Linked DNA regions of Homo sapiens: region 2 is linked to region 1. Evidence: fine-mapped expression QTL. Tissue or cell type: whole blood. Region 1 holds a variant in brackets; the other region holds the start of a gene. All regions are shown on one strand. Distances are between the middles of the regions.

Region 1 (2,913 bases):
CACAAAAAATTTTTTGTATTTACATAAATATGTATGTATCCACAGTCAGGTTTCACCAACTAACCATTGGTAAAATTAATGTTTCAGATGTCTGTGCTATTCCTACTCTCAATATTAATCATCTATTTTAAAACTTTACTCTTTGGTCCATGACAGGTTGCCACACTTACTATATCAATGGTGGGTGTATTACTTCTTAAAATTAATAAAAGCCAACCCCCCAAAAAATTATCCAAAGGGACTAAATAAGACATAACTGATTACTTTTACCAGAGTCAACAGAAACTTTCCAAGAAACAAAGAGGCCAAGATGAAGAGAACAATCAACTGTCAAACCAATTAGTAGGCCAAGGACAGAGTAGGATAAGGAATGCAAACTTATCAGCATAATTTCCAGTTCACAGGCATTAGCCAAGACATACATGTATTCAACACTCGAATAACACATCTTAGAAGGAAAGAGCAGAGCACAAAATCAGGAATCAAGATGTGGGAAGAAGAAAAAATTCCTTTAAGGAGAGAATAAAGCCTGAAGACAACATGCAGCAGGTAATGGGGTGACCAGCAGCTAAATCAAGAGATATGAGCTATAACCCCTCATTACACCCACCAAGCTGGTTTCCTCGGTTTCCTTCCGAATGTTCCTTAACTTTTCTAAGTCTTAGAATCTTTAGGTTTAGTTTGAACAGGGAAGATGATATGATATCCAAAGGTCTCCTCCAGCTCTGATAACAGACTGGGAGTTTGTTTAGACGATGAACAGATACGTTTAAAGGGGAAAAAATAGGCTACTTTTATTTCAGTGACTTGAAGTTCACAAGAATGAAATTTCACAGAAGGGAGCCAAGCTGTCAGCACGCACAGTGAACACAGCCCTAAAGCATTTGTCAAACCAAGGCCTCTGAAATGAGTACAAACACCTGGATGGTGTGCATGTTACCTGCCACATAACCTCAGCCTCAGCCACAATCCCTTTGCCTCTGACCCTCCTTGGCTCTTCCCAGTTGGATACACTCACTTCTCAGCCCCCATTCTTCATGTAATCCTGCCAGAGGCAAGTTGTACACACATCTATAAAAAGTTAGGAGAGGTTTAAGGTGAAACAGGCAATGGAAATCCTTGGTGCAGCTCCTAACCTTGAGAATAGCACAGTAGGTAACAATTATTAGTGTCCTAAAAGGACATTTTAGGACAGGCAGGGCAGCTCACGACTGTGATCCCAGCATTTTAGAAGGCCAAGGTGAGAAGAATGCTTGAGGCCAGGAGTTTAAGACCAACCCAGGCAACAAAATGAGATCCCATCTCTCCAGGAAAAAAAAAAAAAAAAAAAAAAGGCCAGGCCAGGCATGATGGTTGTAGTCCCAGCTATTCAGGAGGCTGAGGTGAGAGAATCACTTGAGCCCAGGAATTCAAAGTTGCAGTGATCGCACCACTGTACTCCAGCCTGGGTGACAGAGAAAGACTCTGTCTCTCAAGATAAAAAATAGAACATCTTGTAC[C/T]GGCCCCTGTTAGAATGCGTGCCCCAGTAATTTCACTTCTCAAGAACTTCACAAAATAATGTGAAATATAGACAAATATTTATACCTACAAATCTCTCTCAATATTATTTATAACAGCAAAAAAATCTGATGCATGCTAGATCTGCAACAATCAAGGAATGATTATGCAAATTATACCTCAAGTTAAGTTCCCCTCCTACATGATCCCATAGACCATGTACTTGCCCCTCTACAGGACTCAACCTGCCTACTAATTGGCCATTTCCTCCAACAGGTCCTGAAGGACAAAAGCCATGTTTTGTTCACTACTTTCGCCACAAAGTATAGTTTATAATAAGCACAAACTAAATATCTGTTGAATGTCTTCTGGAAAACACCTTTAAGTAAATTTTATGTGATGGAATGTTATTCAGCCATTAAATGTGGTTTGTGAAGCCTTCTTAAATATAGGGAGTGCTGATGATGAAAAGCTCTGGAAAGCCGGGCGCAGTGGCTCACGCCTGTAATCCCAGCACTCTGGGAGGCCGAGCCGGGCAGATCACCTGAGGTTGGGAGTTTGAGACCACCCTGACCAACATGGAGAAACCCTGTCTCTACTAAAAATACAAAATTAGCCAGGTGTGGTGGCACACACCTGTAATCCCAGCTGCTCGGGAGGCTGAGGCAAGAGAATTGCTTGAAGCCAGGAGGCGGAGATTGCGGTGAGCCAGAGATCGCGCCATTGCACTCCAGCCTGGGCAACAAGAGCGAAACTCCGTCTCAAAAAAGAAAAAAAAAAAAGCTCTGGAAATGGATAGTGGTGGTGATTGCACAACACTGAATATACTTAATGCCACTGAATTGTACACTTAAAAATGGTTAAAATGGTTAATTTTATGTTATGTATACTTTAACCCAATAAAAGAGATAAACAGAGAGTGCTTATGAGGCAAGTTAAGTGAAAAGGCAGGATACCATAGGTCTAAACCATATAAAACTACATTTGCATTTTTTTAAAAGGCGGGAAAGCAGCATACTAAAATATTCATGGTGGTTTATCTTTGAGGGGTAGTGTTGGGGTGATTTTTGTTTTATTTGCAGTTTTCTGTATTTCCCAAAATTTCTACAATGGCTCACATATAATATGTATAATTGGAAAAAGACATCAAGCAGCATGGATAGAAAGGTTTCCTTATCAGCAGGTTAAACGTGGATCAAAATCATTTACCTTGCTATGATCCTTGATGTATTATACTTGTATACTGCATATCATTTGTGCTTGCCTTCACTGTATAGTCCATAAAACATGCCATTTAAGTGAAAACGGTACCTTTTAAAATTGAAATGTATTATTTAGCTTTTGCTCTGCCAGAAAGTATGCCTTTCAGATGTGATGCACCGTAAGTATGCTTTGCTCAGGCTGAGAAGCAGCAAC
Region 2 (2,913 bases), 47 kb after region 1:
TTATATCATCATCCCCCGACAGTGTTCTCTTTAGGGACCTGATTTTCTCTCTAGTCCTCTCATTCCTTTCCCCTTCCTCACCTCCTCTCATCCCTTTTGTTTGCCCTTTTTTTCTTTTTTTGCTCTTAAAACAGCTCTCCCTCCGTTCGTCTTGTCACTTCCATGCATTTTTAACTCTAACTAGAAATGGGTCACCCCAGGTTTGCTCCCCAAGCCCCAGGGCCCCTCAGGACGAGTGAAAAAGGCCCTGCGGTCCTCCCTGCCTGGGGGAATTCCTCCTCCGATCACAGCTCCGGTGGGCTCCGCAGATGGGAAAGGGTTTCCAGCGCGCGCCTAGCGGCCACAAATCACTTCCCGGGGCCGCCCCGCCAGGCCTCAAACCTCCCAGAGCCGTCGGTCGGCTTTTACTTTAACGAGGATTCAGATGGGTCACACCCTGTCCTCCAAATGCGGGCCTGCTCCCCGGACCCCGCCCAGGGGGCTCGCCCCAGTGCCGAGGCTCCTGGGCAACCCTAGCACTCTGCGAGTCGGGGAAGTGACCCCAAAGTTGCTTCTGAGTGGAGACTTCCGCACGCAGAGGCGTCCCCGCAGCTGCCAGGCTTTTCAGGGGCAGCATCCCCCGCCCGTCAGGAGCCTGTCCTCGGGGCCACCACGCGCCCCGCGCCTCAGCCCCGCAGGGGCCGCACCGGGGCCTCAGTCTGCAAGCAGCCGGGGACAGCGGGCTTCCTCCCCTGCCCGGAGCGGCCGAGCGTCTCGGCCAACCTCCCCCGCGGAGAGCACAGCGCCCCCGCGCAGTCCCCGAACTTCTTCCCGCGTCGGCTCGGGCTCTCGGGTGGGGACGCGGGGACCCCTCGCTCACCGATATCCCCATCGTCGTCGTCCTCCTCCTCCTCCATTTGTAGCAAAACATTCCTGCTCATCTTTTTCATGTCTCCCTCAGAAGGCGGCTCCGAACTTGGCGCGAAGTTGGGGGCTCCCGGGTTCCAGAACGGCGCGGCTCTCCCAGGGGCCGGATCGGGGACCGCGGGGCGTGTGTCGCTTGGGCTCAGGGGCCGCTGAGCCCAGCCAGCGCCGGGGAAAGCCGAGCCGAGGCACCCACCGACCGGAGCCCAGAGCCGGAGGACGCCTCTCGCCTGCCGAGCGGAGCCCGGAGACTGAGCATGCCCAGTGCGGCCGCCGCGGCTCGCTGCGGAATGATTGAACTTCCCCGGTTTTACGAGGCGCGCAGAAGGAAGTCGGCAGGCGAGACTGCAGAGGGAGTAGTGCGATCCTGCGCGCGGGGGAACTAGCTGGAGGGCAAGGCGGGAACACGTGAGTGCGGGAGTGGACTGGGTTCCCTGAGCATTGATCCCAAACAGGGCAGCTTTTCGTTCCAAGGTCGTCTGTGGACACACACTGTGGCTTGCTTTGTTTTAACGTCTGATACTGGAGAGGAGGGAAATGCTGCTGCAGCACAACTGCAGAACCCTGGAAGGCGAACTCGTTTGAATGGCTTTTAAAGGCGACGTGGAGCTAATAATGGGGGGATCTTAAATTACTCTAGCTCCGAAGTGGGAAAGTGGAATCTGTACGGGTAGGTTAAGATTACGGTGGAGTCGGGGTGGGAGGAGAGGCAAAACTCAGAGAATAAGCAAAAGAAGAAGGGGCGGGACGGACGGGAGTGGGGGTGGAGAGAATTTTCTAAATAAACGTGTGCACAAAGGCAGGAGGATTTCCGCATACATTGAGGTCGCGGAGAGTGGAGAAGCGCCCCCTACTCCGCCCGCGCGAGCACACAGGGAGTGGTCGGAAGATAATCGCTGAAGCGTCCAGCCTATTTGTACAATTGAAACTAGTCCTCTGTGTCAAAGAGGGAGAAGAAGCCGAAGACCACTAGAGTTAGATGTAAACTCTTCTAAAGCAATGTGGAAAGCTATAATAAGAGAAAAGAAAGTCGTGAAATAAAATTAAGGCAGAGAGTTTTTATTTTTATTTTTAATGCTTTCCTGGAAACCAAAGGGACCGATAGGACAAATACAAAGGGATTTAGTACTTTAAAGACCCTTGGAGTTGTTTGAACGGCAGGTTTTGGGGATCGCGTGTCTACAAAACTTTTTTCAAAAAAGCTGGTACATTCAGGTTGTTCAATTTTGACTTCTCAAAAGGGCTAGAAGGTATATTTGAAATCTTGGTTATATGTGTTATTGTCTACTCATTGAAATTGTTTATATTTTTTCCACTGAAGTGCTAGGGTTATCACAATAACACTAAATCTACTGTGCATGTTTTTTCTTCCACATACTTTTTTTAAGACGGTCTCGCTCTGTTGCCGAGGTGGGAGTTCAGTAACTAGAACTACAAGCGGAGCACACCACCATGTGGGGCTTATTCTTAAATTTTTTTGTAGAGATGGGTGTCTCACTATGTTGCCCAGGCTGGTTTCGAACTCCTGGCCTCCAGCAATCCTTGCACCTCAGTTTCCTAACATTTTTAATGTTCTCTCTGAAAGAAAGAAAACATTGGGACCAATCTTAAGTGGGAAAATAGACATGAATATATACATGAAAAGACATGATGAAATTACTTTTAAGAAAATACCTGGGAAACACTATACTTGCTTCTTGAGGTACTTTTTTTGAATAAACAGAATTGTTTTTAGTATAAAGAGACAACAATACAGTACTCTGAAGATAGGAGAAAAAAATGATGGGAGAAGAAAGATGAGAAGAGATTGTTTCCTTTCACTGAACACTCTCCCCTGAGCTTGTGAAACTCACTAAAAGTAGAAACTTCAAAAGTGTTTTGGTTACATGATCAATTTTTACAATTTTCTTTTAACAAATTTTTGTGTAGTACTTTTTATGTGCTAGGAAAAGTTTTACATGTTTTATAAGCATCCAGTCATTCAACCCTCATAACAACCCTAGAAAGTGT

The links. PIP is the estimated chance that this variant, and not a neighbour inherited with it, causes the effect.
Region 2: ANO6 starts here. The variant in region 1 is fine-mapped to the expression of ANO6 in whole blood (TOPMed, PIP 0.98).

Annotation. Positions count from the first base shown.
Region 1 is chr12:45,261,788-45,264,700 of GRCh38, reverse strand. All of the region lies in intron 1 of ANO6 (anoctamin 6), which reads right to left. Among named protein-coding and RNA genes, the nearest start is that of ANO6, 47 kb to the right of the region's middle. The variant C/T (reference allele first, on the strand shown) is at 1,500.
Region 2 is chr12:45,214,338-45,217,250 of GRCh38, reverse strand. ANO6 (anoctamin 6) reads right to left here and starts at 1,156. Exons shown (of 20, transcript NM_001025356.3): 1 at 860-1,156. The coding sequence starts at 929. It also overlaps the pseudogene PLEKHA8P1. RefSeq lists enhancers at 151-280, 1,291-1,390 and a silencer at 521-830.